4 separate regions of the Homo sapiens genome follow, and all the other regions are linked to region 1. The links come from fine-mapping of genetic effects on gene expression. A gene starts in region 1. Each other region holds a variant in brackets. All regions are shown on one strand. Distances are from middle to middle. Region 1 holds the start of NCK2 (NCK adaptor protein 2). Region 2 overlaps LOC105373531 (a long non-coding RNA gene). Region 3 overlaps NCK2 (NCK adaptor protein 2). Region 4 has its middle 160 kb from the start of NCK2.

Region 1 (8,111 bases):
ATTCCGGGAGTCTTAGGGTATTTTAAAAGGTTATCCAGTCTGTGCACATGCAAGGAAGATTTCCGGTGTATTTAATATGGATGGTAGTGCATTTCTCAAATATAGTACTGTGTACATAAGATCTGCTGTTTGTTGGAAAAGCTAAATAACCGAAAATGTAAATGACAAAGCCTGGGAATATGGCAGGGTCAAACAGAGCAAGGATGAAGAAGATTTAAGTATGCAGCGTGTCCTAAGCAAAACACAAAGCATGAAAACTGAGCACAGCCACCTGCAAGGCACCTTCAGCAAGCCCGACGGTTAACAGGGTCAGTTTCTCCACAAGTGGACAGAGGGGGTTATGCAGCAGCCAACTCTTCCTGATGGCAATTTGTGACCCAATTTCATCCAGTGTTTCATGACCAACCCCCCTGAATGTTTATGAAGCAGGAAAGAAGCTCAGAATCCAGGCGAGGCCTCCGGGACAGGAAGTGGGCCAGGCACCTCCACAGCTTCCTATGCCTAAAGTTCTCCATTTCAGCCTCAAGTAGCCGCCAGAAGACCACTAAGATTCCGCCACCTTCTCCAATCAAAACTACATCTAACCAACCTCCAGGGCAGAATATACTGAGGTAGGATTTTCCCTCGTGTTCACTTCTTCACAAGCAGGTTAACACTTGCTTCTCAGGAAACCCCTGTTCCAAACGTCAAAAAACCTCCATGTCTAGCCCAATCTCCAGGTGAAGTCAATTTCTTCTCCACGTGTCCGATGACTGCCATTCTCTTTACGTAAAACTCGCAAGGCTTGAATCCTGTTACTAATTCACCTGCTTATCTATGAAGCTTGCAAAGTGAATTGAGGGAGTGTTCACACGCACAGTTCCGTTTTGGTAAGTTAAAGCGGCCCAGGTTAATTTCATTTTCAGTCACTTTTGAGACTTGATAACTACATCTAAAACAGAGGCATGAAAAACACCCTGAATCACTTTCATTCCTACACAAAATCCCTTCCGAGAAGCGGGGACTGCGCCTGGGCCAGGAAGGGACTCCCCTACCTGTAGGTCCCAGCAAGCCACGCCCACCGGCCTCTCAGGGTTGTTTCTTTCTGGGTCGAGGGACGGAGCTGGCCCTTGCGATATTTTAGGCCCCCTCCTGCCCACACTGGGGCCTGCTCATCCCATTATGCAGATGCAAACTTGGCAGAAGCAGCCTTAAACCTGTTGGCAAAATAAACAAAGCCAAATAAAGAGGAATCTGCCAACCTGAATTGTGTGAAGTGGCCAAGGCCGACTCCACGCACGCTCGGCTTTGTCCCTGAAGCTGTTACAATACTAGTTTAAGTCAGGTGCCTGGGGTCCACCAGCCAATGACCCCTAGCATCCACCGCAGACCTTCACAGAGATCCCCATTGTCTACAAATTAAAGCGTTTTGCAAATTAAACCCCTCCACACAATGCCAAGCTAACTGTGCTCATAAGGCAGTTACCCTCCATGCCTTAAAACTCACATATCAAATTTTTCCAAAAGCACTCGGTGATTAAATCGCCCTGAAAAAAACCGAGAGAGCCGAGCGATTGTGAGAAACTTTGGTTCATTCAGGTGGCTGTTAGAGTCCTGTAAATCTGGGGCAGGGCGCAGAGCCTGAAGCCGGGCACAAAAGCTCCCTTCGCCGAAGCGAGGACCTCCTTTATGCAATGTGACAGCAGCTTTGTGCGCGAACATAAATAGTTGTAATAAACACGGTTAAGTTCTCCCGGCCGATCGCGGCCTCCCCCGTCCCTGCGCCGGGGCCCTGCGATCCGCGGCTATTCTTCCCCGGCACACGCGCCCTGGCGACCCTGGCCACCGCACGGTCCCACGCTAGCCCCGAGCTCCGTGCCGGCCGCCCGCCTGCAGGCCAGGCGCAGCCTGCGCACCCGGGGGTCTCCAGTCCCCGGGCCCCGCAGCCGGGCCCCCTGCCCTGATCCTCGCCCGCGCCCTTGGCTGGCGTCCCCGCCCCTGGGCCGGCCCCCGATGGTGGGGGTTAGGGATGGGAAGGCGGGCAGGAAGGTGCAGAGCCGGGAGGTGCCCGGCAGTCCGCGGTCGGGGGCGCCCAGGCCGCGGCAGGGCCGAGAGCACCGGAGGGGCGCGGAGGGGACCCGCTCTCCTGGCCCCTTCCCGGGCGCACCCCGGCCCGCGAGCCCCGCCGCGCTCCCAACTCCGCCCAACGGCCCCAAGTTTGTGGCCCCCGCCCCACGCCCGCCTAGCCGCGCTTACCTCGCCGTGGGCCGCCCGCGGAGCCGGAGGGCAGCGGCGCGGGTCCCGGGGCGGTGGCCGCGCTGCGCCCGCCCAGGCGCCGCTCTTTGTCTGCGCCGCTCCCTCCTCCCGCCGCCGGGCGGACGCTGCCGGCCCGGGCGGACCCTGCCGGCCCGGGCGCCGCGAGCCTCCCGGCCGCCAAGCCCTCCCCTCCGCCCGCCGCCCGCTCGGCCGCGCGGCTCCGGCCTGACGATCCCCGCGGCAGCGGCGGCGGCGGCGGCGGCGGCGGCGGCGACCCTCCCCCGGCGCGCAGCGCCCGCCTCCTCCGCGCTCTTCCTCCTCCTCCCGCGCTCCTCCCCGGCCGCGCCGTGACGCCGCCCAGGGGCCGGCCCAGGCCCGGGCGCGCGGGGCGGGGACCCGAGACCCACCTGGGGCGCCCCCCGTCGTCGCCAGGCTCCGCGCCCGGGTCCCGGTACGGGCGCCGGGATAGCGCGGGGCTGCGGGACGCTCCGCTCTGGAGGCGCAGCACGGGCCGGGCGCCGGGGGCAGGAAAGGGTCCCCACGCCCGAAATTGCGTGCGGGCGGTGGGGGGCAGGGTAGGTGGGTGGGGAGGAGAGTGAAAACACAGACGGCAACTTCCAGCCTGGGATGACTGCCGGGTGGGCTTTGCGTCCTCTTTTTTGTTTGTTCGTTGTTCTTATCACGAAGCTCTAGTTGCTGGGCAGCCGCCCCCCTCCCGGAAGCATTCCCACGGCACTCAGCTAAGCAGGCCTGTTGTCCATCAGAAAAGTGACTTAAATAAAAATGTCACTTCCTCCCTGTAATTGCTTGTGGGCATTTTTATTTATTTGCTTTGCATCTATTTACTTTCCCAACCAGACACATTTTTAGTCCATCATCCCTGTCCGAGGCACTTCCTAAAAGAAGAAGAAACTCGACCTCTGTTGCCTCCCAGGCATCCAGGCCAGCCCCAGCCTGTGGAATCCTGGTTGCACACCCGTGGGGGCAGAACCCGAAGAGGAGCTGCCCGAATGTGCCCCTAGAAGGAGTGTCGCTAATGATGGGACCGTTCAGCTCACCCAGCCTCGAGTTGTGGCTAGCCTATAAACAAACTTGGAAGATGAAAACCCAAGAGCAAGGGGAAAGACACAAGTTTCCCTTTCACAGACACATGCATCCGGATGTCTTTTCTCCTCCCCATATGGTTTCCCAAAGGAAATCCTAATATTCAAATGATTCTGATTTCCTGGCAGGATAGCCTGCATCCATGTTAATGAGATTCTTTCTTAGGCTCCTGGTCTCTGCTTACTATTAAGGCAATAATAATTTACCCAAGGTTACAAGGCTGTATTATTTGATTCACTCATCTCCTGCTTCCTTCCAGAAGGGAAGTACCCAAGGATAGGTAACTAGAGTCAGCGTAGCTTTGAAGTCAGACAGGTGAGTGTTTGACTGTTGACTTCCTGAACTGTGTAACGTTGCACAGGTGGTCCTCAGCCTTTCTAAAATCTGTCATATGGGGAGATAATATTTACTTACCTCCTATGTGAAGTACCCTGGCAGTAGGTAGCCCTCAATAGCTCAGTAAGTGGAAGGAAGCACAGTACACTGAGCAGGAATCAGGTACAAGCTCAGGGAATCAGAACAGCCTCATTTTTCCTTGTTTTGACCTTGTGAAAGAAGCTACTTCAGTTCATCCTTTTGTGCAAGTTTTGTGTTACTAATATCTAGCTTTACAATAAGAAAAGAAGAATTCTAGTCATCAGTCTGCCCAATTTTAGATTAATTTACTCAAAATAAGTATAGCAATATTGACCCAGTTTGTAGCTTGTTTGCTTTGTAAACTTTCACTGAATCGTGGTTCTTGCATGCCTCTTCTTTCTCTGATTCTTTAGAAGTCACCGATGTCATTCTCTATCTAAATCCAGTGGCCCTTTATCAATCTTTATCCTGTGGAGTTTTCTGAAATATGTGGCATTTCTGCTATTTCCTGAAACACCATCATCTTTTCATTCATCAAACACAGCCAGTTCTGATTCTCTTACCTTTCTGACCTGCCCATCTGCCTCCTCTAGAGAGGTTGTTGTCTTCCCACCCTGTAAAAGTGATATCCCCAAGGCAGATGGTGGCCCTTTGTTTTTATTCTGATACGCACCTTTTTTTTTTAAAGAGAGAGTTGATTGTTTTTTGTACACTCCCTGTCTAAACCTTCATTGATTAACCCCCAGACCTGTAGCCTTAGAGAGCTCCCCTGCTAATCTGCAGAGCTCCCCAGCTAATCTGCACCCCCTAAACATGGCGCAGCATCTCTTCTAGGTCACCATGTTCAAAATGAAACTCATCTGCTCCCCAGACCAGCTCCTCCTCCCATGGTTTCAGGCCTGGCCAAGAGTCTACCAGGCACCTCAGCTCCTGGGAGAAATCTCATTGTTATCTTGGCTTTTCCTTCCCTCTCTCCGAGTTCTCCCCAAGAAAAGCTGGGAGAGCGCTGAATGACACCAAGACCCCTTGCAGACTACCCCCATGGTTCTGAGTCCTGGTGATTCTTAAACATCTTTTCCACTGCACCTTTCTTTCCATTTCCATCACTGGCATCCTAACTTATACATCATTCTAGCAATAGTTATAATGTACCTTGATTGAATTCTTGACATATATCATCTCTAATCCACACACAATAGTATTATACCCATTTTACAGATGAAATCACTTGAACAGTGGATCAAAGAACTGGGGTCAGAGCATGTACCTGACTCCAAAACTCTTGTTCAATTCCCCACAACTACTGCCTTCCAACTGGTCTCCCATTACTTCCTTCTTAAATCCCTCAGACTCACACTGGACATCAATGTCATCCTAACCTTCCTGTAAATTGTTTCCATTTGTCCCTGGTTGTGCTCAAGAACTTCTCATGGCTCCCCATTGCCCACCACAGTCTCCTCAAAAGTTATCTGATGACTGAAGACTGAGCATTTTCCCCCAGAGAGGCTGGGGTATTTAGCCCTTAGAGGCCTGTGTTCGTTTCCTGGGGCTGCCTTAACAAATGACCCCAAACTAGGTGACAAAACAGAGGTTATTTTCTCAAAGTTCTGGAGTTCAGAAGTCTGATATCAAGACACCAGCCTCTCTCCAAAGTCTGTAGAGAACAATCCTTCCCTGCCTCTTCCAGCTTCTGGTGGCTGCAGACATTCCTTGGCTTGTGGCAGTGTCACTCCCACCTCTGCCTCTCTGTCTTCACACAACCTGGTTCCCTGTGTCCTTTCCCTTCTCTCTTTTTGTAAAGACAAGTATCATTGAATTTAGGGCTCACTCTAATCCAGCATGATGTCATCTCGACATCCTTATCTTACAACATCTGCAAAGACCTTTTTTCCAAATAAGGTCGCGTTCTCGGCTTCCAGGTGAACATATCTTTTGGGGCCAACATCCAACCCACTGCAAGGCTTAACATGGGGGAGACATTTCTTTGAAGCTTATGTTTTATCTAAAAATATATAGGTTTTTCTGCATTCTACTCCATTAATGTGTCCACATCTGTTTTACTGTCTTCAATCACAAAGTATTGAAAGCATAAAAAACATGGAGTGGAAGGAGGTGCAGTAAACTTTTGCCTAAAATCACATCAGCATTACATCTTATGATCTCTCTTCCAAAGGCCTCTCCAACTTAGCCCTGCCATACAATCTCCTTTTTACCTCTGTCCAGTATAAGCTGTTTGCTTCAGTCACTCAGCTCTGCCCACAGTGCCACATTGAGTCACACTAGTTTCAGCCTTCTGTGGTGTGAAGGCAGCTAGGAATTCCCTGTCCCCGTCCTTCTCTTTCAGAGCTCCATTCAAGGCCTTCTCTAACCCCTCCTTAGACTCACGGAAAACACAAAGCAAGGTTGAGGGTGTTGTCCAAGTCATACGTCAGAGGCTCAAAGCCTACCTTGGAGCCTGTGCCTTGGGGTCATTTCACCTCTCTGAGCCTCAGATATTAATAGTGCTCTTGCAAAGCGTTGTGAGAATTAAAGGAGATAATATAAACATGTCTCAACTGTGTGTTCAGCACATGGTAAACACTCATGTCTCCTTTCTCATGACCTTCTCTTGTAACCCTCAATTCAATTAAGCATATCTGGTGTAGTTCTATTTGTAAGGCATTATAAGATCCACTTCAGGATTCATTCATTTGGTGCAGACACCAAAGAACACCTGGATGTGCAAAGAGCAGATATAAGATTGCATTATTCAGAGAGGTTATAACGCAAACTGGAGTGGAGTGAAAGGATGGGAAAATAGTTTAGGAGAAATGGAGAGGAAAGACCCAAAAGGAAGGATGAAACCAGCATACAAATAACTATAATATAAAACTAAATATGAACAGTACCAAAGAAAATATGTCTAGAGAATCAGGAGAAGCTTTAGGCTTTATGAAAGGTGGTGGCATTGGCAATGACCTTGAGAGATTACATGGTGGGAAGCTGCCTTTAATTTGGCTGCCCCCCTCTCTAGCCCCTTCCTGGTTTTAGAGAAGCCTGTCTGAACCCTGGAGGGAGGCAGAGTAGGCACCTTGGTCCCTCCATTCCCAGAAGCCCTGTGAGAGTGAACAGCCTGGGATTGGCCAATGGAACCCTCCCACTCAAGACTGTGAAACTGGAGAGGGTGAAAAGGACAAGAGAGGGTGAGATTCAATTTGCCATGGCTGAAATAGTCCCAGCACATCCCTCCCACAGGAATTAGCCAGCTCCATTCTCACCCCTTCTGCTCTCCAGTTCCCCTGTGAGCTACTTGATATTCTTCTAGTAAATTCTCCTATTCTGCTTAAGGTACCCAGAGGCACTTCCTCTTTTTGGAACCCAAACCCCTGAATAATGCAAATGGTAGGATTTTGAAAGGTGGAGATAGACAGGGAGAAAATTCCCAGCGGCAGGAGTTCAGAACTCTGAGGCAGACAGGGGGACGTGGGAGGACCCTGTAGGGACAGAGAATGGCCCACTTGCCTAAATGGAGCAGAGGCTGCACAGAGCGGATCGCGAGGCCAAGAAGGAAAGCAGTTAAGTGTGGACATCATCTGGGCTCAGCCCAGGAACACTCATTTGGTGCATGCACGGAAGGACAGCTGGAGACAGGAAGAGCAGACAAAAGTTCGCATTTCCAAGAGAGTTCATAACCCCAACTGGGGTGGAATGAGTAGATGGGAAAGTGTTTTAGGAGAAATGGAAGGGGAGGCTCAAAATGAATTGGCAGCTGCTTGGATGTGGGGGACCAAAGAGAAAGAGAATGGGGCACAAATATAACCTGAGGCTTTGGATGTGGGAAACTGCAAAGACAACGGTGCCGAGATCAGAAACAGAAAAGTGGGGAGGACTGGCTTGTGAGGGATGAACGGTTTTGTTTTTGTACATTTGTTAAATGTAATGAATAGTTATTGCCAACTTACTACATGGAGAGGGCACTGCAGGAGGTACACAAATGAGCAAGCCACAGTTCCTGCCCTCACGTGCCTCTGTGCTAGAAAAGTTGCTATTACTACTATAAATACCCTGCTGGAGTAATGAGCCTATTGCTCTTTAATTGTATCATTCATCTCAGCGTTGATATGAACGCCCTGAGGGCAGGAGCCAAGCCTGGTTTTCCTGTACAGCCCCGACCATTCTCCGGCCTACCCAGTACAGAACAGACACTTTGCAAATCTTTCACGATGGATGGAAATTCCACACTTACGAGTGTGTCAAAGAGGACAGAGAGCATTAGTGAAGAGACTTAAAAAGAGGCCATTAGGAACTCGCTATGAGAATCTCAAAACAGATACCGGTGGACGTATAGATTTTTGCATTTCATTTCACCTACATGAAAACATGGGGAAGAGACGAGTCTTAAGACGGCACGGTGATTTCATACCCAAACTACAAAG
Region 2 (8,111 bases), 230 kb before region 1:
TAGGAATTTGATGGCTGCAAAGAAAACTAATCATGAATTCTAGCAGTTCCAACTTCAAAGACGGAGGATTTTAGGGAGCACTGAGGGAGAATGGTCGCAAGTGGCGTTGAGGAGCCTGGAGGACCCCCGCCCACTTCCAGACCTGAGGGACTCATTTGATACAGACTGTTCTACAAGCCATAGGCACAATTAATGTCACAGTTCATTTTTATAGCTGCTTCATTTCCCATTTCATAGGTGTCTCATGATGCATTTCACTGTCTCCTTTTGAAGGTCACTGAGGTTGTTTCAGATTTCCTCTTGTCATTACAAGCAATCCTGAAATTACCATCTTTGTTAATAATTACAGTGCCCATTAAGGCCAGGCAAATGGGAAGCAGGAACCTGGGGCCTCCAAATTGCCCACTGCCCGCTAACAACTGGGCCGAGAAGGTGCAGCCTGCTTGCAGCCCCGTGCCCTGAGGGGGATGCCTTGCAATCCAGTTTAATTTCCCACATCCTCCTTTATCGGGGCTCACTTTCTTTAGAACCCTGCCCAGGGGTCTCTAGAGTGACTGCATGGGTTGTTCCTCTGTGGCATGATGATTTGTGCAGCATGAAGGCCGCCTGACAACCTAGGGAACTGAAAATATAGGACATCTGCCAACCTCCTGGTGGACACCTGAGAGGGAGTGGAGAGGACTGATTTCAGGCTCACAAGCACAGCATTTTATGAAGAGAAGGACAAATTCGCATGTCAGCATCTTGAGAGAAAACCCCAGACGTGGAAAGGAATCCATTTGAGTGGGAGGAGCCGTGGTTGCCAGCTAGGACCCGGGTTCTAGGGCTGCTTCTGCCACAATCTCTCCAGAGACCTTGGGCACACTCCCCACCCTTCTCAAAGCCCAAGTCCCCATTTCTAAGTTGGAAACTGGGATCCAGAGGACGGAGCACCATTGCGAGGGAGCCAGCCGGAGCTGGCTTTCTAGCCAGGTGCCCTGATTTTCCTCAGTAAAGAGCCTACTGGAAGTTGATTCCTGGGTTGTGAAATGGGAACTTTAGGTACCTCTTTCCCACCCAGGTCCACAAGCCCTTACCCAAAGCCTTAAGCATTTTCGGAATCGAGAACACTGCAGCTCTGGAAGAGTAGCATGCTGCATGTGCTATTTTACATGACACCCTGGTGGAGGGGTGGCTGGGGCAGCACGCATCACCAAACTCATGAATATGCTGCAGGGAAATGTCTGCATGTTCACTCCCAGTGGGATCAGTGAAAATGAGAAATAGTCTTACGTCAGGTCAGCTTGGGTTTTGCTGTCCAACGAGCCATGGAAAGACTTCTCCTTTTAGGTCCAGTTCTTCCCTCTGGCATAGAAAAGGCAATGGCATCGGACCTGGAGAGAAGGCATCCACAGAATGTGGGGGCCCTGGGCTCCTGCTCCTCTCAAAGCCAGGGCATGCCATGCCCTGCGCAAGAATGCGAATGTTGTGAAAATGTCACATCTAACACTTGTGCATGTTATCTTCCCCCTGAAGAAAGCACCTGTCCTCGGAATGAGCCCAGAACACCTCAGGGCGCCCTGTTCCCCCGCCTGCCCATGGGCTCCCTCCTGGGCTTCAGGAGGGGATAGGGTATCCATCTGCCTGTTGCCTCCACTCTGTTCCTGTGCATCAGCCTCCTGCATATCACAGTGACATGACCCTGCTCTCCTCTGAACCCAGGTGCAGCAAAGGGAGCCAGGAAGACCTTGATTCCTCACATGTCTCTTTTGCTCTTGGTCTGAGATGCACCCAGCAAGGGCAGTCAGAACTCAGGCTTCGATGACACCTCCTGGCATTTTGCTGTGAAAGGGGCTGCAGCTGAATTGCTTCTTGGCAAACCACAGTGCCTGCTTTTGGATTCCAATACCGGCTCCACCACCTGCAAGGCAGCTTCGATTCCCCCTGTCTGTAGCATGGGGGTGATAATAGCCAATACTCAGCATGGTTTCATCAGCTCATGCACACAAAATGAACAGCACAGATCTTGTCATGGTGGCCCCCCTACAAATCAATGTTGGTTTTCTTTCCCCTTTAAGCCTGAGTGTAAACAAACAGGAACCACATTCAATTAACTCACTTTCACCATTTGTTTAGAAGTCATCTACTTCCTTTCGTGCTATTTTTGAATGGTTTTAAAAAACTATAACCACTAGGGCAATGTAAACTTCTAAAGAGATACTTGGAGACTCTTTTGGAACTAATGTATCCCTCAGACACCTTAGTGAGGGAGACTTCCTCCTGGTAACGTTTTGCATTGATCTTCTCAGCATTTGCCTTAGAAAGCTTTCAAAAGTAGGTGTTATCATTTTTGTACAGGACACTAGCAAGTGAAAAAAAAGGACAGGTGCATTAGTTTCCTCTGCTGTCTGTGCACATTGAGTCAGCAGCTGAAGGTGGAGGTAACATGGGCTGCAGAGGGCCTACCTCGCTCTCTAGGGAAGCTCCTGTTGCTCCAGCTCATTCAAGTCCCCAGCTCAGTGGGCTTCTGCATGGTGGGGGCTCTGGCATCCTGACACTGAATGCCGAGAAGAGGTGGCCATCTCTCCAGAAACTTACGTAGAGAAAGGCTCTTGCTGGGGACAGAGGAGAAAGGGGGTGGTGTGGCCACCTAGGGCTCAGGGGTTGTAATGGGACTTCCAACTACATTCCCGCCACCCTCATATCCCATCACCCTGGATATGAGTGAACCTCACCTTTTATGTCACTACTTCTTGTTTTTGAGTCTTGGTTTTCCCATCTATAAAATAAAGATAATACCATCTACCTCAGAGGGTTCTTGCAAGTTAGAGAGCACACTCATGTAGTACCTGGCATGTAACTGTATCTGCTGTTATTATGGTGGTGTTGCTGACAACTAGAAGAGGGGAACCTTCAATTCAGAAGTCCAGAATGTTTATTTGGCAGGATCGATCCAACATAACTGCACAGGGATTTCCATGTGACTGATATTGAGGGTCACTTTCCAGCTTTCAGCATCAGCAGGATTTCAGGGGTTCCCAAGGTGGTCCTCATGAAGGGAGCTGGAGGCAGTGAAAGAGCGGAGTCACCAACATACTTGTCACAACCTTAATGAAGTCTTCATTAGAGGTGGCATACAATTTGTTCCCAAGTCTGCATGGATTTTTGCATGTGAATGAATATATATACTTGCTAGCCAAATGAAACAATAAACATGGAAATGCTTTGAACAGAACAACACCAACACATTCATATTCAGGAAAGATACTGTTTTTACGTGCAGACACACCAACCTATGAATAACCAGACTGGTGGTGCACTGTACTAGCAGATAGTTTGTGTCTTCCTGGTTCTTTCTGGTTAGGGACACTTCCTTTGTGTCCCTAGCACCTCTACGTGCTGCAAGTGGACATAACTGATCTTCCAAAGCTTGGCCTCCAGTTCTCATCAGCTAGACTTGCTGCGTGTATTTGTCAGAATAGGTGTGATCCTGCTCCAATTATCAATTAATTCCCCATGTCTCTGTGGGTTAGTACAACGAATGTTTATTTGTCATTCACTTCCAGCCTAATGCAGGGCAGAGGCCCCTTCTGTGCACTCTGGGTCCTGAGGCTCCCGCTTGGTCACCAGTGCTTCCCCCGCCTTCCATGGGGGACGCAGCGACCTGGCCCAGCTGTACCAGGCTGGCAAATGGAGGGCTGGCATGGTATTTGGTGAGCCCCCGAATCTCAGAGACCTGGCACTGGCAAAACTAGAGTGGCCTGCCTTTCTTCCAGCAACATCTTCTTGCTAAATGTGCATCCATATGTCCCACATTTCTAGTGAAGATGCAAGAGGGCCTGCCACTCCATCCTCCATGGGCTGGCTGGACTCACACAGTATTGCCCTGTGGTTTCCACGTGAAAGGCACACTCTGCGGGAGGTGCCAGACTCTCCTCTGGGGCGTGGTGGGAAAGAAGAATTGTATTTCTTTCTATGTCACATTCTCATTTCTGTTTTTGTAGGCTTTACAGTGTACACAAGACATGTGTGCCATAGTTCATTGATATACTTTCTAAAGAAATAGATACATATAATGGAACTACAGCTTCAGAAATTTTTAATGATAAAAATTGTGTTCAGAATGAAATGGAGATGGCTATTTTAGAGATCAAGGAGGTAACTTCTTGACTGGCTGAAATACCATATTTAGTTCCTTTCAATATTCTGTGATTATTCTGCTCTCATGACAGAGGTTTACTCAAATGTACGTAGTTTTTTTTTTTTTCACGAGGCCCTCAGGTCTTTGGGAATGGCATCACACTTCACACTAACCTCTTAGTGTTATGCTCACCTTTAAATTAAAAAAAAAAAAGTTGAAGTATTTATTTTCTCTCCACTATGTTGTAAAATTTTCCACAATGGCAAATGCAAGTCATATAGTCTTGCAGGGAAGGAGAAGCAAGACTGATGATCTCCACGCTGGAGAGCTGCCTGTCTCCCTTTTTCTTCTCTTTCTTTTTCATTTCTTGGGCAGTGGGTAGGGGCAGTGGAAGTGAGGAGACAGAGGGCAGTGTCTATACTCTCTGGGCCCCTAAGCAAATCCCATCGCTGTCCAAAAGATGGAGCTGTTGTCCTGCAGCCAGGGTGGAGCCCTGTGGACCCTGCCGGAGATCCTGTTCCTAAAGGGAAGGCCAAAAATCACTTGTTGCTCATACTGGGAGTCCCTGTGTATGATACCTTAAACAGAGAAAAAC[G/A]ATCCTTAAAGGTAGGAGGAAGCCAAAGATGGCAAGAGGACGAATGGCTTCCGCAGCGGATATTCAAATATTACAGTTCTGTCACTTGGGCAGAGGATGGTTCATGGGGTTATCATACTCTCATATTTATGCTAAATAGAATAATTAGACTACAGGTGGTTCTAGAGATAATCACTAACCAAACCACCTCAGCCCTGGAAATGCTCACGCAACAACAAAACCAAATGCACCTGACAATTTATCAAAACAGACTAGCACTAGACTACTTATTAGCAGAAGAAGGTGGGGTCTGTGGTAAGTTTAATGTCTCTAATTGCTGTTTTAACATAGATGATAATGGAAAAAGCAGTTCTAGAAATTGCTTCAAACATCAGAAAAGTAGCCCAAGTACCAACTCAAACCTGGAAGGGATGGGACCTGGCAAACCTTCTGGGAGGGTGGTTCTCTAATTTAGGAGGATTTAAAACATGGGTAGGGACAGTAATCTTCATCATTGGGCTCCTCCTGTTTCTCCTGTGTTATCCCATTGATAATTAAAACATTGATAATAATTAAATAATAGCCATTAAAACATTGATAATAGCCATTAAAACATTGATAATAGCCATTAAAACATTGATAATAAAAGCCATTAAAACTTGTTGAAACTACAGTTAACCACCAGACAATTCAGACGTTGCTTCTGCTACAGTGACACAGTGGATACCAACCCGTCTCTCAAGAATACCCAAAAAATTAAGGTTTTCTTTTTCCAAGGTGCCCACGCCACCCCCTATGTCACACCTGCAGTAGTTATTGAGAAAGTTGCCCCTTTTCCCTTTTTTCTATAACCAAATAGGAATGAAAGATTCTCTCTGGGGCCTGAAAGTTTGAAGGGATGAGTATCTCCTCCCTTCTCAGGCCCAGTCCAAAGGCACAAGTCCACGTGAGTCAGCAGCGTGTGTCAGCAAGATAGCAGAATCAGGAAGAGAGCCAGCCAGAAGATACCTACCCTGGCTGGAAGACACGTACCCCTGAAGATTGAGAAGGAGGCCATCCGGGTACTACGTAGCAATCACATCAGACTGGGACACTTCCTGTTTACAGAGGACTATAAAACCCCTGTCCCGTCCTCCTTGGGGCTGATGTCATTTTAGGCCTCAGCCCACCTGCACCCAGGGGCTCATTAAACAGCATGTTGTTACACACACACACACACACACACACACACACACACACACACACACACACACAAAATCACTTGTTGCTTCTTCTACCTGAACATTTCAGACATGGCTGCCCTGGGATCAGTGTACCATTATGAAAATCATGGCAATTTTCAATGCTGGTCTTCAAAAGCTGGTGAAGAGTGAGAGAATGTTTTCATTTTCTCCCCAAACACAGTCTAACAGTATCTTCTGCTTTAACTGAAATACAGGGTCTGAAGTTAGCAAAGTCACCCGTGCTGCAGGACACTGCCTGGCTGGTGGGCAGTCGGCCTGTTGTGATGTGTGGCCCGAACTTGACCTTGAAAGTGGGGTAATAATGATCAATCCATCACCCTGCTTGCCTTGAGGCTGCTTCAGATCTAACAAGGAAAGCTTTGGAAGTCCCTGGAGCCCATGGACATAGGAGGGCCCACTGGCTGTCCAGGTGGCCACTTGGGTTCCTCTCCATCAGCAGCCCCCCTTCTTAGCCTGAGCAGACACCCCCAGCTGCCTGGGGATGCCAACTGCCTGTACTACCACCAGTAATCTCTCCTGCCTCTATTCACACATTAAATGCACTTTTTCAAAGCCTACTCAGTCTCTGGTAACTGCAACATTTGATAAGTATTTGAATGAGGACTTTAGAAACCAGGTTCCAATTTAATTTAAAACTTTTTACTTTCAATTAATTATAATTTCTCTAAAATTGAAATTTCTAGCAAGACTCAGGGGAGGCCAGGTAGACCTATTTAAGCATAGGAAGTCACTTGGACACCCTTAAAACCAGTGGTTTGCAACCTTGGCTACATATTAGAACAACCTGGGAAGCTTTCAAAACTCCCGATGCCACAGTGGGGCACCCCTGGCCAGGGCTACAGTATGAGTTTCCAGGGCTCCTTCATCTGTAAAAATATATTGAGACATTTTATGACTGCTTTGGTATAAAGAAAAATATGTTAATTTTGCATATTAAAACCTCTTCTTTGACGTAAAAGTCTGTTTTCTTCATTTGATTTCAAGGGAAATGTAAACCTTTTGTGTGTTCTAGGCACCGTGCCTAGTGGGTAAGTCAACTCTGCAGAGAAGGAGTTTATGGGGTGAACCCAGCCTTCAGCATTTTCTTAAGCTCCCCCAGGCCATCCTATTGCAAAGTCAAGGTAGATAACCATTTTCAACCATCTAGGACAGAAGGCCTACTTGGCTGGACTGGTCCTGGTGATCCAAAATAGCCTGGAGAGGTCTGGTTCCTTTAGTTCTAATGGACCATGTCCAGCCAAGGTCGGCCTGACCTTGGCCCTGCCTGCCCCAGGCCCTGGAATTCTGGTGAAATCAAACATCCTTGACTCCCACCTTTGGGATTCTGACCTGTACCTGCTGCCAATGAATCCTCCATCTCAGAGCTGGAAAAACAGAAGGACCTTGTAGACCCATGTAATTTCTAGTTGCAGAAGCAGTCTTGTTACTGTAGCACCTGGTTCAAGGTCATGGAAATGGCCAAAGCTAGAACTGGGCCCAAGCCCTATCTCCACATCTCACGCTAAGCAATCCCTCAGGAATGAACCTCATCGCCCAAATGGGCAAAACCAGTATGCTCTCTTGAGGGTGTAACTTGCTTGGTCCTTCTCTCTGCCCAAGAGCAGGCCCAGTGGTGAAACCACAAGGGGCCAGTTGCTCTCTGGTTGGCATTAGCTATAGCTTGTCTGAGAATAGGGTGAATAAGAACCGAAGTGGAAGCCTCCAAGGCAACACCAGAAGGCTGCTTATTACACCATGTTGATATGTTGATGCCAGGCTCAGAGGGAGGAGGAGATGAATGTTAGTGATGGCCACAAGAGAGCTGCAGATGTTCTGAAAGATGGGGCACAGCTGCTTTAACTGCCTTCACACCCATGGAATCCCTTCCCTCCTCTCCACTTTCCCTCTCTCCCTGCTTCCTTCTTTCCCTCCTTCTTTCCTTTCTTCCTTCCCTGCATCAACAAACACCTGTTGAGAACCTATTTCTAAATGCGTGGGAGACTGCAGGAGGTGTCTAACAAGGAAGAAACACATCAAGGCTTCAGGGTCTATGGGGAGAAAGCCCAGCACGTAGAAAAATTACAGAACATCAGCAGCAGGTCAGATATATGGGAGCATAGGGCAGGGGGCACAGGGCAGGGGGCATGTCATGGCCCTGTGGCTTGCTGAAGCCAGGGTCTCATAGGTAGTGCCA
Region 3 (8,111 bases), 51 kb before region 1:
CAAGAATATTCTGGATGTACAAACAAGAGGCCACAGTGAGGCTATCCGGGCTCCCAGGATAGGAGGGAGGCTTCCCTTGAAGTATGGTTTTGGCTAACTTATTTCTTACCTACACGTTACTCTTTCAAATACATTTTTTCAACAAAATCATCATATCAGAAGAAAACAAACATTACAACAAGCGAACATTAGCTCCTACTCCTTTCATAGAATATTAAATCCTAAAGATACTTATGTTCAAAAACACATCTTCTGGAAGTAGGGGATGATTTAATATTGAGTCTAAAATAGATGGATCAAAACCATAAATTAATAAAAATGTGGTTATAATTTTCTTCTCCTAGGAAATGAACCAAATTAGATCACTATAGCTAGTCAGCCCACAGTCAAACCTGACTTGGGACGATTAAACACTTAAAGATCTGCTGTTAGTGCCGGTAGCTTAAAAAAAGTTGCGAAGCCATAAATTAACAAGCAGAGTCCACACCAAATTGCTGAAAGGGTTTTTTTTCTGTGCCAAATTTACAAACTGGTTTTCTAGAAGCATCTTGTTTCTACAGGAGGACAAAAGCTGACAGGAGGCCACAACATCAGGTGTTTTGTTTTAACTGATCATGGTTACGAAAGACTTTGCATCAGCTCACTAAGCCTAAACAGGGAGGCTCCACACAGTCGCTGCAAATCCAGCCACTTCCTGCCTCACTGTTACCATACTCATCTCCAAAAGGCCACACAGGGACTCCAACCAGACCAGGCTCCACGCTCCATTCCAGCCATCCTGACCCTAAGACGCTGTCAAGAGAGCAGCCTCCCTCACATGGGTGCAGAGAATTTAAGAACCTCCCTTCTGCTAGCCCGCACAGCCTGGCAGCCTGCTGCTTGGCCATACTGGTTTTTTCCCCCTTAGAAAGACCTGGATACCATTTCTGCCCTTGCATTGCACAATATGGAACCGCATGGCTGGCAGTCTCTTCCGGTCCTAGAACTGTGAGTTCAACACACACCACCCAGAAATAGCACAAATTGGTTATTTCCTGTGCAGAAAAGAAAAATCAGCCAAGGCTTCAGAATCCCATTTTAAAGGTTCCCCTTAAAACACTAGTATAGGAGCTGAAATAGGGGTGTCCTTTCTAAGATCCTGAATTTGGCCAGACAGAAAGGATTAGAAATCAATGTCAACTTTTTTCTTGTGGGTGGGGGAGATGCTGAAAGAAAAGATGGTGGTACAAACTGTGAGTCAAAGGCCTAAAAAGGATAATAAATTTTTATGTCTTAGAGACATAAAGTTAAAATAAAAAAGGGACTGTGATGACTAAATCCATTTCTGCAAGACTATGCTTGTAACCATCATCACAGCAAACACTCACCCCAGCTAGGGGTACTGAACCAACCACAGATAAGTGCTGACACTTACAAGTAACATGCTTAATAAAATTTATTTTATCAAGACAACTCCTGAGAGGGCAGACTAACCTGTGAACTGTCACCACTAATGTCTATAAGTGTTCTAATTATATATATTTCCTTTCCATGGAATCAAATGTATACTGCATTTACCTGCGTCAAAGAGAAATGCTTAGTTATTTTTCCAATTCATTTAATTTATCTGATAGAGGTATGAGAAAGTACAAGGGAAAAAAAAGAAAGGGAATAAACATGATGCCGAGAGCTTCTGGAATAACACTAAACTACGGGATACTCTTCCTTGCCAAATGCAAAAGGAAGAAAAGCACCATCTCCAGCCTTCCAGCTCCCAGGCTCAGTCCAGACGCTGCCGATCTGAACACCTGCGTTCTGTGCCACACACTCATGTCCCCAGGCCCTCTCTGCAACCGGTGCCAATAATACCCCATGTGCTCCCTGCTCCAATGCCCCCATTCATCCATATTTACATACATGACCCTTAAAACAGCAAAACATTGAATTGTTCACTCCTCTTTTTAGTGGAAATTGAATATTTCTTAAGATCCTAAAGTGAGGCAACAGGAAGTACAGAGATAAGATAAACTGACACTAACCTCCAGCACTCTCCTGTGTGCCATCAATGACAAAACAGCCTTGCAAGAGCAGCAAAGCCACCACTCTGCCCACCAGCCATATATACTTACACACGCCTGCAAATGATTGTCTTTCAACCCTGAAGCCACAGTGCCCAGAGGGCGGCCAATACAGAGACTATCAACCTCAGTCACTTTCAACCCTGAAGTTGGTATTCCATGTGCATGCACCTAATAAAATTCTGTCTTCTTGGGACCTGTATCATAAAGCAGAATTAGCTTTCCAAAAAAAGTTTGACTGCACATATGATTTATACCAGAGCAAACTACAATAGAGCTTTCAAATGCTAAACTGTTTTGCTCTTTTTACAAGACTGGTAATAAAGAATATATCGTTGATGTGTTTCATTTTAAATGATTCATGTTTTCCTAAAGTCCTAGATGTAAATACCTAGTTTTACTGAAAAAGACTGGGGGGAGGGTGCGTGGAAGATGAGAGGAAGCGGCGAAGGAAGGAAGTTAGGGAGGAGGGAGAGGTCTAGAGGGAGGAATAATGACTCAAATACCTGGTTGAACATGAGCAGTGTTTCTCACCAGGGGCATACAGACGTTTCGGTAATTCTTTGTCGTGGAGCTGTCCCCTGCGTTGTAGGATGTTTAACAACAATCCACACCCTGCCTAAATTGGTGACAATCAACAACGCCTGCAGACACTGCCTGCTGAATATCCCTTGGGGAATGAAATCACCCTGGCTGAGAACCACTGACGGAGCATACATGTAAACTAAATAGACCAAGTTTGTTAAAGCAAAAATAAGACAGGAATATCCATGTATTTTCTAACTCTTTTGGAATATGACTCAAATATTTATGCAGCAGTTTTTATAATTACCCGTTTCAAAATAACTAAATAAACAGGCCCATTCAGTTTAACTCAATATCATGATTAAGTTACAATATACCATATAATTAGAAAACCACCTTTGACCTCTTGCTTGGGAAAAGTGTATAGAGTATGCTATTGCTTATTTGAGGAAAAAAAAAATTAAAAATATATCACTGTATACACATATGTGTTTGCTCACATTAAAAAGCAATAATTATTATTATACATTTGTCCAAACCCATGGAATGCACAACGCAAAGAGTGAACCCAAATATAAACCCTGGACTTTGGGTGATTGGTTTTTGTCAGTGCAGTTTCACCCACAGAAACAAATGCAGCACCCTGTCGGGGATGTTGCTAGTTCATGTGGGGGAACTGGATATATGAGAAAACTCTGTACCTTCTGCTCAGTTTTGCTGTGAAACTAAAACTGCTCTAAAAAATAAAACTTTTTTTAAAAAGCAAGAAATAAAAAGGGGAAAGAAAAAAACATCTTTAAAAAATGGTGATGGAAAAGAGTAGGGAAAAAAGAAGATAGAGAGAGTAGTCATACAAAATAATCATTCTCTGGACATAACCATCTTTGGCTGCGGAACCATGCGAACAGTTTAGATAATAAACTATTCGGGAGGCTGAGGCAGGAGAATCGCTTGAACCCAGGAGATGGAGGTTGCAGTGAGCCAAGACTGCACCACTGCACTCCAGCCTGGGTGACAGAGCAAGACTCCGTCTCAAAAATAAATAAATAAATAAATAAATAAATAAAATAATAAACTATTAACTTTTTTAAAGTCCAAAAATTAAAAGCAGAATGAAACAAACTAAACTATAAATTGAGTTGGTGGCTTAAGTACAGAGAGGAATTATCCTGAAAGACTTTGAAATACAATAATTGGACTGTATTTCCCCTGTGAGATAAACCCTAAGGACAAAAACATTTTCTGTTGTTTTCAGTACTTATATGGTTTGCAATTATATTGGTGGGGTTATTTTAAACATTTATATATATTGTATATAAATAAAACACACAAGCAAGCAAATAAGTCATTACGTAAACGATCCTAGGGACAAAGATTTTCAGCATAAAGGAAATATAAAATCAAAGGATTCAGCCAGGCATGGTGGCGCATG[C/T]CTGTAATCCTAGCACTTTGGGAGGCTGAGGCGGGCGGATCACTTGCGGTCAGGAGTTTGAGACCAGTCTGGCCAACATGGTGAAATTTTAGAAAATTCTTCTAAAAACACAAAAATTAGCCAGCGTGGTGGCAGGCGCCTGTAATCCCAGCTACTTGGGAGGCTGAAGCAGGAGAATCACTAGAACCTGGCAGGTGGAGGTTGCAGTGAGCCAAAATGGCGCCACTGCACTCCAGCCTGGGCGACAGAGCAAGATTCCGTCTCCAAAAAAAAAAAAAAAAAAAATCGAAAGATACAATATTTTAGAATCCTAATTTTGAGTTATAAGTATCAATGTGAATTTATAATAGATTATGTTTAAAAACAAACCACACCAAAGAAAAAAAGCTTTTATCCACTGAAAAGGCTCAGACACAATGACCAAACCAGAAGCAACCCATAAACAGTAGTGGTCCCCACAGTTCTTTGAAGGCACGCAGACCCCAGCTGGGGTAGGCACTGTCTAAAGGAGCCTGAAACCCCCACAGCTCCCTGCTTTCCGGTGTGATTATTAAGGACTACAGGCACGTGGCAAGAGAACACGAAGGCCACCTAAGGCAGCTTTCGCTGGCCAAGGCTGGGGCAGCCTGAGCAGCAATGAGGGTGTCAACTGCAGTGGGTAAAAATACACACAAAGTATCTTAAATCAGAGTTCCACAATTGCTACTCAAAACAAAGAAATAAACAAATTCATTGCTCACTTTGGTGGATACTGGGGAACCAGAACTATTTACTCTGAAAACTGCCAAATAAACTTGTTAGCCAGTGCAATGCCTACATGACCTAGGTGAATTTCTACCCTGCCTTAACTCTACTTGTCTCAGAAACAGGATGCCCGAGGTCAGAAGTTCCCTGCCTGACCAGACCAGCTGAAACCAGTGGGATCCAAGATGGCAGCTCACCTGACCTCTGAAGAACCTTTAACTTCATTATCATCTAATTTCCATACTAAATGACACTCCCACTAGGACCATGACAGTTGACAATCACCATGACAATGACAAGAAACCATAAGGGGACAAAAAAACAGGCAGCACTCTGGTTTCCAGAAGTTCTCCACCCATTCCCAGAAAATACATGAATATTCCTCTCCTGGCTTTTAATGCCCAATCCCTTCATTAAAGATGTCCTACATCTGTGGCTTCCCACCTCTCATGGACTGAGAAGCCAATTTGCGAGCCACACTGCCACTTCTCAATTCCACGGCCATTATATAAAGCCTGCACTGCTTGATGCTCACCTTCAGTTTCATGGGTTGGCTTCATGACACAGGACAGGAAAGAATCCCACCATTAGGGAAAAGCTGACTCGGTTGGTGAGAAAGGGAAAGACTCCCATCTAAACTGCACGTCGGGGTAATAGCTGACAAGTACTCTCCTCACCTGGCTAGCAAGTGCAGAAGGAGTGACTGAATCAGAAAATCATCACTTTGCAACCCCTGTGCATTACAGGTGGAGGCCACGGCCATCCAGGTTGCTCACATGGGCCTCGGCCTGATAGATGCACACACACCACCTAAGGGGCAGCCTTGCCAGAAAATCGCACCAGACTGGCTCTGGTTCTGATGTGCAGTTTCTAGGAAGTTCAGGGTCCTAGTCAGCACATTGCAGACTGTGGGAAGCCCAAATGACAAAAGACCGGGTTTTGCCAACAAATCAACTGGCATGGGGAAGGTGGAAAAAAAAAAACAAACGAGTTTGGACAAATCAATAGATCATTCAGCTGCATGTGTGGACCTTACGTGGATTCTGACTTTAACAACCAGTTGTAAATAACATTTTGAGACAGGTGGGAAAATTTGAACACTGACTGCATACTTGTTAAGTAGTTATTGTTATTGAAATTCCGTAATATTTACAGGACAGGAATTGATGTCTGGAATTCACTTCAGAAATAATCTGTTAGAGTCTATAGGGGCTTAGATAAAGGATTGGCCATTAATTGATAACTGCTGAAGCTGGGCAATTTATTCTGATTCTACCTTAGGACTACACTGAATATGATGATCTTGATAACTAAGAAATCACATCTTACAAAGAATGTCAAGATCATCATAAAATGTGATAGCTGAAAGGGCCATCAGAAACCCCCAAGCAGCAAACCATCTTCTACATATGAAGGTGCGCAAAGCACCTCCCTGCCTAGGGCATGGAGCGGGTCAGTGGTGAGGCTGAGCAGGAGGGGTCTCCAAAATCTCATCCATCTCTCCGGTCACCAAGGCAGGACTGGGGAAGCGTTCCCACGGCTCTGTGCAGAGCCCACAACACAATCAACAGCTTGCTTTTCAGAATCAACCGCTAACCCATTAAGGCTCTTCTTTTTGTTTCTGATTATGCTTAAAAAACACACACTCAAAACATCGAAAAAACATTTTTGGTAGCTTGACCTCTGCTCCTCCCAAAAAGAAAAATCAGTTCACTCGATAAAATCTTGGTAAGTTATTCGGGTGTTAAATATACAACAGATATGAAAATATTGAGTGGCCTATCAAAACACAACCACCACGAGCAGCTGCGTCATTTTTACATGGATCAAATTATAGACAAAACTCACAAGCTCTACGAAGAATGTATACCACTGATTTGCCTGAATTGTCAAGTAGAAAAACGAAACCCTGTATCAAGCACTTCAAGAGGTCACTATGATCAGATCTATTATGGAGTCAGTTCGAAATGCTCTTTGCTCTAGAGAAGTTTAAATGAACACAAGAGTGCTCTAAAAACATACAATAAACTACACTGTAATACACGGAACAAATAAGGACATCCCAAAGACAGTGAGCGAAGAGTAATCTGCAGCAGCACTCTGGCCGGTAAGCACGGCAACGGGGCGAGGGTGCACTCCCTACATTGTTGTTAGGCACTTTACACCGTATATCCTCCCATCGTGAAAGCCACCGAGCCTTCCACCACACCTGGTCACTCTTCTTCTGGAGTGAAGAGAAAAACGTGAAGGCACAGAGGTTACGTGGGAGAGGTAAAAAATGACCAGTTTCTTATCAGTGTGGCTGTAATTTACATCACTGCCTCAGGTTTCTCTAGATGAATCAACATTCTCTTAAGAATTACTAGAATTTAAATCCTGGAAGGAAGGATTAGAGATCTTCCGCTGTCACCTCTTCATTTAACAAATGAGAAAATGAGGGTGCAGAGTGGCTGAGCCCAGGGCCGCAGGGGCTTCCAAGTGGCTCCCACATACAGTACCTACCCTCTCAGCTGTGTTGCTCATGGGCATTTCCAGAGCCCCAAAGTTTCCTGAGTGGGAGCGGACAACCTCTAAGCAGTGCCTTCCAACTCTTGCAGGTTCTAACACGAGGAGCACTCCCCTAGCAGTGTGCATCTGTGATATAAAGGGGAGGGGTTGGACTCTGGCTGGCTCCTCACCAAGCCCTGCAGATGAGGACTCTCCTCCCTTGCCTCGGGCTGACCTGCCACACCCTTCCTTCTTCGGGCACAGCTCAAAGGCCGTTCCCTCCACCCAAGTCTTGCCTATGTGCATCAGCTGGCAGCGAGAGACCCACCTGGACAGCAGCCTTAAAGAAACAGGTACAGTCTCCTGAAGACAAGCTCCACCCATGTACACTTCTCCCCTAGGGGTGCCCAGAACAGAGGAAGGAGGCACTAAGGGCCTGGCCTGATGCCTTCACCTAAGATGAGGACAGGTGCGGGGGATGCAGTAAGATGTCACATCAAGTGATGACACTCCAGGCAGCAACACCTGGCACACTTCTCAAAGGGCCTAGGAAACCAGGGCTCCAGAGGTGGCTCCTCTCAGTGGGTGAGGTAACAAGAAATGGGGCAGGCGGGGGTGGCCGGGCTCCCAGGCTGCCTGCAGAGGGGTCTCCTCACAGGCACAGACTCTCCTGCTGCCCAGGCATAGAGTGCTACCCATCCTAGAAGTCAGGCTACTTGCCAGCCTATGGCATTGAGAAGCCCAGGGCTCAGCAACTGTTCCCACTCTGAGTCAGCAGGGCAAGATCTGCTAAAAATAGATGGTGGGCAATGACGAGAGCTGCAGGAAGCCAAGAAACGAGTCTGTCATTTTAATCCAATCAACAG
Region 4 (6,555 bases), 160 kb before region 1:
GTTACAGACGTGAGATTAAGTTCTAATGGAATGACACTTCCTCTGCACTTTATAAAAGTGTCACAATTGTGATACCCATTAGAATGGCTACCCTGAAAAAAAAAAACAACAACAGAAAATAAGTGTTGACAAGGATGTGGAGAAATTGGAACGCTTATCCACTGTTAGTAGGAAGTAAAATGGTACAGCTGCTATGGAAAACAGTTTGGCAGCTCCTTAAAAATTTAAAAATAACATTATCATATGATCCAGCAATTCCACTTACGGCTGCATACCTCAAAGAACTGAAAGCAGGAACTCAAACAGATATTTGCACACCCACGTTCACAGCAGCATTATTGGCAGTAGCTGGAAAGGTGGAAGCCACACAAATGTCCACTGAAAGATGAATAAACAAAATGTGCTCTATCCGTAGAATGGAATATTATTCAACCTGAAATAGGAAGGAAATTCTGACACATGCTACAATATGGATGACCTTTGAGAACATTATGCTAAGTGAAGCAAGCCTGTTGCAGAAAAGTTAAACACTGTATGATTCCACTTCTATGAGGTACCTAGAATAGTCAAATTCGTAGAAAAAGTAGAATGATAGTTGCCAGGGGCTGGGGGGCTGCAGGGCTGGGGATGAGTTGTTGTTGTTTAATGGGGACAGAGTTTCTGTTTGTGAAAATGAAGAAGTTCTGGAGATGGATGGTGATGATGGTTGTACAACAGTGTGGATGTATTTACCACCACTGAGCTGTGTACAGTTAAAAGTAGTTATGATGGCAAACTTTATGGTATGCATATTTTCCTACAATCTTAAAAAGTATTACGGACCACATCTGGTACCCAACTTAAAGGATTTTTCAAAAGTTCTGTGGTAGATTTAGACAGATAAGAAATAACAGCACTAGCTAATGACATCCTGGGCTTGAAGATCCAACTCAGTGGAGCTCATTCTCAGATGCCATATGGTCTTCAGCAATGGTGGAGACACAGGAGGCCCAGTGGTCTGTCCTCTCCAAGGCTCGCATGTGCAAACTCAAGGTAAATGAAAGTACCACTGAAACCTAGAATATACTTTTTAGCTAATGCTTAAGTTGGCTTCATTAAACGTTGGCTTAATTAAGGGGTGGGTAAGACCTTTCTAGTGACTTAAAGTGGGTTTGGCTTACCTCCAATTAAGCTAGAGAGAAGCCTGCTACCTTATTTTATAGGTTCTCTTTTCCTGTTGTTCATCAGTCAACAAATGTCTGTTAAGCACCTACCATGTACAGAGAGTACATATTAATAACTTTGGGAAAAGTTTAAGTTTTTTGTGAACCATGAAATTGAGAATATTCAATCATTTTGATAAAAAATGGCAATATCATATCAAGTCGAATTGTTGATAGTCTGATGGAGGAGAAAAGACACAGAGAGATACAAGGAAAGCTGGCCAGCGACAATCAAGTGTAGCCCTGGTGCCATATAAATACTGCTGGTCTCCCAGGAGAAGGAGCAGCATGAGAAAGGAGGAGCTGGGACATCAGGGCTTGAAGGCAGAGCAAGTCCCCCATATCACAAAAGTGCCTGGGGAAGAGCATGAACCCGACAGGGAAAGGTGAATGCCTGTGCCAAGCCTCTTTGTGGAATTTCGAAAACACAGTTTCTAATTAGGAGATGTGAGAAACTGAGGTTGGAAGGGAAGTTGAAGCACATTAGCAGTCTGCGGCTTGGGTTGTCTGCTAGTTTGGATCTCATCCTCTATCCCCATGGGACAGGAGGGAACCAGTGAGCCTTCCTTGATGGCAGTGAAGTGATGAGAGTACAGCAGAGGTTCAGAAAGGAAAGACTTCAGAAGAAAGAAATTATAGGATGGCTGTGCCATTAAAAATGACTATTTAGTCTGGCAGAAAGCAGTAAGAAAACAGACCAATTGCCTGGAGGTTGAGAATAGGAAATTTTATGCACTGGGGACCAAGCGGGTGGGTAAGGACCTTATGAAGGAAAAAGGTGGTGCTGGAGTTGGAGGCAGATGTGTGGGGCAGCCGCTAAATGAGAAAGGCAGGAATCAGTGACACAAGTGAGCCTTTGACCCAAGTCACAAGGATAGTCATGGCATCTGACTTGGCTTGACTAAATCCCAAAAGATGATAGAATACTATGTAGAATTTTGCAAGAAAAGAATGTGATGCATGAACCATGTCCAGCTAAGCAAGCGTTTGTTTTCAAGGGCAATATAAAGGCATTTTCAGATATTAAAGGACTCAGAGTACACTGTTCTCTTTTTCTCAGGTTGATTCATTCAGTGCTTTTAAACTAATTTATTGAGCACCTGCTAGATGCCAAGCACTGGTCTATTTAGGCTACATCAGTTAACAAAACAAATATCGCTGCCTGTATGGAACTTCATGCTAGCTGTGTGTGTGTTGACAGAGAGAATAATAACCCTAGTAAGTAAATTATTCATGTTAGAAGTTGATAAGTACTACAGGGGAAAGACGAAAGAGAAGAGGGCAAGTTTCATTATTAATGGGATAGTCATGGTAGACTTCACTAAGAAGGGAACCAAAACATTTTTTCTAGATTACCTAGATTAGGAATTCAGTATTTTGCAACACCAATCTGTTCATTGACTTCATTACATTCTGAAATTTGCAAATCATGTTAACAAGCACTTTTGGTGAAAATATTGACTAAAGAGAAAATTATTTTCTTTTTTTTTTTTGAGATGGAGTTTCTCTCTTGTTGCCCAGGCTGGAGTGCAATGGTGCAATCTGGGCTCACTGTGACCTCCACCTTCTGGGTTCAAGAGATTCTGCAAATTGCTGGGATTACAGGTGTGAGCCACTATACCCTGCCAGAAAATTATTTTCTAATACCACCGGGAAACCAAACAAATTCCAGAGAAGAAATCTTTCTCCTATTTTCCTACCACCAGTATAACCAATATGAATATCTACTTTTACTCAACTTAAATTTGGTTTCCA[T/C]GCAATTTAAAAATATTCAACTTTTTTCTCTATATTTTTCATCCAGATAATAAAAAAGATGTATAAAAAAGTGAAGAAAATTAAGATTCCTCCAAATGATTTATTTCTAAATGGATTTGTAACCAGTATCACTTTCCCTACCTCAAAAAAAGCACAACCTGAAAGATTTTCCACCACAGATAATCCAAGGCTACCCCACAGTATATGGGTGGGCAGTTCCCAAAGACAAATTCCAAATGCACCTTTAACAAAGACAGCACCTGTTATTCTCCAACACCTCAAGCCACCACTGTCATAGAACTAACGGGATATGAATGCTATTTGGACGTCTGCAGTTTTTATTTTTTTATTTTTTGAGATGGAGTCTTGCTCTTTCGCCCAAGCTGGAGTGCAGTGATGTGATCTCAGCTCACTGCAACCTCCACCTCCCAGGTTCAAGCGATTCTCCAGCCTCAGCCTCCTGAGTAGCTGGGATTACAGGTGTGCGCCACCACGCCCCACTGATTTTTGTATTTTTAGTAGAGGTGGGGTTTTGCCATGTTGGCCAGGCTGGTCTCGAACTCCTGGCCTCAAGTGATCCACCTACCTTGGCCTCCCAAAGTGCTGGGATTACAGGCGTGAGCCACCGTGCCTGGCCGGATATTTGCATTCTGATTGGGCAAGTATTTTAGTTTCATTACCTCAATGTCAAGCCTCCCTCATCTTTTTATTCTCTGCTCTTCACTGCACAGGACAGGACCTCCCTGGCACTTGTGGAAATGAATATTACTGACATCCCATTCCCTGTGGGACTGGATGGAGTTCTAGGTTAAAATCATTTGAACACAGTGTCTCTATGGTACTACATGTAGATGTAGTCTGAAATCTTGTATAAGTCACTACTAGCTTCATTTAGATAATAATTTAGCACATTAACCTATTTTTTTCCTTTTCATTAAGCCCATTTAACCAGCTATACAAATGTGCTAAGTATTTCACATTACGCAGTTTACATTGTCTAAATGTACAACAACGCCTAACAACTCTAATATCCCCCTCAAATGGCTGTATTAAAAAATGCAGCTCTGCACCAGTGTTTTGGAGGTACAGAGTTCTCAGCACTGGCTGGAGGTCAAGCCGCTGGTGAGGAGCACCCAGGCTCAGATGCAGGGTGTGCACCGATGGAGGCGCACTCCACCACCATGAGCACAGGCCTTTGCTTTACACAAGTCCACTGACTTTCTGGACTAGGGGCTTCCTTGGGCCATGACCTAATCTTGGAAGGCCACATGCCCCCACCAACCAGCAGATGCTTGAGGACAAGGCCCTGGTGCCCTGGTTCCTGACCAAATGCTGGCCACTGGAGAGGAGCTCAGGGATTTTTTGAAAGCTGTCAAAGGCGAGCTTTCACACCAGCTGTCAGGCTTGTCTATCTTCAATAGTCATTTAGTGTCAGGTAGCAGGATCTGCCAAAGATAGAACAGCACGAGTCTTTCCAGTGAGTTTGTATGGCTAGTAGCTGTGCTGTGGGAAACCTGATGGAGGTTAAGGCAAGTAAGACAGTTAACAAAAGAGAAAAATAATCACTCTGGGCCTTAAAGATCAGACATTTCTTTCTATATCAGTAGTCCCCAACCTGGATTGGCTTTGTGGAAGACAACTTTTCCACAAACCTGTGTGTGTGTGTGTGTGTGTGTGTGTGTGTGTGACGGTTTTGGGATGAAACTGTTCCATCTCAGATCATCAGGCATTAGTTACATTCTCATAACGAGTGCACAACCTAGGTCCCTTGCATGCACAGTTCACAATAGGGTTTGCACTCCTATGAGAATCTAATGCTGCCACGGATCTGACAGGAGGCGGAGCTCAGGGAGTAATGCTCACTCGCTTGCCTGCTGCTCACTTCCTGCTGTGAAGCCTGGGTCCTAACAGGCCATGGACCAGTAGTGGTCCATGGTCCAGGGGTTAGGGACCCCTATTCTATATGGCCCAAGGAGAAGGACATGCTGTAGATGGCATGCATTGAGAGCAACGTGTTTCCCTAGAGGTTTCAAGTAGACTAGACTAGAACCCAAAGTGCAGGTCCAAACCACCTCATTGGAATCTTCCAGCAGCATGTTAAAAATGCAGATAGAGATTTTTTGGGGCAAGAAGGCCAACTAGATGCAGCCAGGTGGAACAGCTGCCACTGAGGGACCAAGACCACTGGCACAGTCCTAACAGATCTTCAGAGGGAAGGCTGTGAGAGTACATGGAGGGAAGATACAGAAGCTGAGCTGAATGGGGAGGAAGTTGGGAACCCTGAATGGAAGGGCTACTGCACACCAGGACTCACTCCTGGCCCCCAGTGACTCTGGGGTAATGGGTGAATTGAACTGACAAGGAGCAACCTGCTCTCACCACGGGCACCTGGAATCCTGGCAGGAGACCCTTCGACCACTGTGGACACTCGAGTTTGCAGGGAGAGCTGCTTAGAGAAGTGGTAGTGGGGCATGCCAACTGATGCAGAGCCCAGAGGGTTTGGTGTGGGAGCATCTGCAGTGGAGCATGGTCAGGGATGCCCAGCCTCCTAGGCTCGACTTGTTCTCATAGGAGACTTTAGCCCTCTGCGAACTGTCAGACCTGAACTCTGCAGAGCTGTCTTGCCCATCAGACAGGGCCAGTCTGGACCTCAGTGCCCTTGGTCTGCTGGCCTCTCCTGAGGCCCCAGCCTGGCTGAGTCCACTTGCAGGAAAGCCTCAGCTACCTTGGGGGCCCACATCCTGCACTGGTGCACCATGGCTGACTAATGGAGAATTCCAGTGAGGTGTCCCCCACGGCCATGCAGCAACCTGCTTGCTTCCTCCCCCAACAGCAGCTTCCCCAAGGCCCATAGCCACCCCCAACATTGCTTTGCCAGAGTGTGTGTGCCAGCAGGTTTTGCCTTCCCTGCCCTGTCAGTAAGCATGTCTGCATGCATCCAACACTGCCACAGGAGTGAATCTTCTTCAACTAGCTAGAGAGGCCAACATTCAAATTCAGGAAATGCAGAGAACCCCAGTAAGATACTTCAAAATAAGATCAATCCCACAACACGTAATCATCAGATTTTCCAAGGTTGAAATGCAAGAAAGAATGCTAAAGTCAGCTAGAGGGAGAGGGAAAGTCACCTACAAAGGGAATCCCATCAGGCTAACAGCAGACCTCTCAGTAGAAACTCTACAAGCTAGAAGAGATTGGGGGCCTATATTCAACGTTCCTCAAGACACATAATCTTCAACCAAGAATTTCATATCCAGCCAAATTAAGCTTCATAAGAGAAGGGGAAATAAGATCCTTTTCAGATAAGCAAATGCTGAGGGAGTTTGTTACCACTGGGCCCGCCTTACAAGAGATCTTGAAAGGAGCACTAAATATGAAAAAGAAAGACTGTTACCAGTCAACACAAAAATATACTGACGTACACAGAACAGTGACTCTATAAAGCAACCACACAAACAAGTCTTAATAACCAGCTAACATCATGATGGCAGGGTCAAATCCACACATATCAATACCAACCTTGAATGTAAATGGGCTAAATGCCCCAAATAAAAGGCACAGAGTGGCAAGCTGGATTAAAAACAAAAAAACAAAAAAC

Evidence for each region. PIP is the estimated chance that this variant, and not a neighbour inherited with it, causes the effect.
Region 2: its variant is the best candidate, but not a certain one, in a credible set for the expression of NCK2 in whole blood (TOPMed, PIP 0.54).
Region 3: its variant is the best candidate, but not a certain one, in a credible set for the expression of NCK2 in whole blood (TOPMed, PIP 0.70).
Region 4: its variant is the best candidate, but not a certain one, in a credible set for the expression of NCK2 in whole blood (INTERVAL, PIP 0.67).

Annotation. Positions count from the first base shown.
Region 1 is chr2:105,739,263-105,747,373 of GRCh38, reverse strand. It overlaps NCK2 (NCK adaptor protein 2), which reads right to left and starts at 2,462. Exons shown (of 5, transcript NM_003581.5): 1 at 2,236-2,462. RefSeq lists enhancers at 1,152-1,201, 1,302-1,371 and silencers at 1,742-2,131, 2,242-2,301, 2,492-2,811.
Region 2 is chr2:105,966,221-105,974,331 of GRCh38, reverse strand. LOC105373531 (a long non-coding RNA gene) reads right to left here. Exons shown (of 3, transcript XR_923144.3): 3 at 3,141-4,640. Among named protein-coding and RNA genes, the nearest start is that of ECRG4, 95 kb to the left of the region's middle. The variant G/A (reference allele first, on the strand shown) is at 4,716.
Region 3 is chr2:105,790,234-105,798,344 of GRCh38, reverse strand. All of the region lies in intron 1 of NCK2 (NCK adaptor protein 2), which reads right to left. Among named protein-coding and RNA genes, the nearest start is that of NCK2, 49 kb to the right of the region's middle. RefSeq lists enhancers at 7,852-7,901, 7,982-8,031. The variant C/T (reference allele first, on the strand shown) is at 4,015.
Region 4 is chr2:105,901,036-105,907,590 of GRCh38, reverse strand. No RefSeq gene overlaps it. Among named protein-coding and RNA genes, the nearest start is that of NCK2, 160 kb to the right of the region's middle. The variant T/C (reference allele first, on the strand shown) is at 2,958.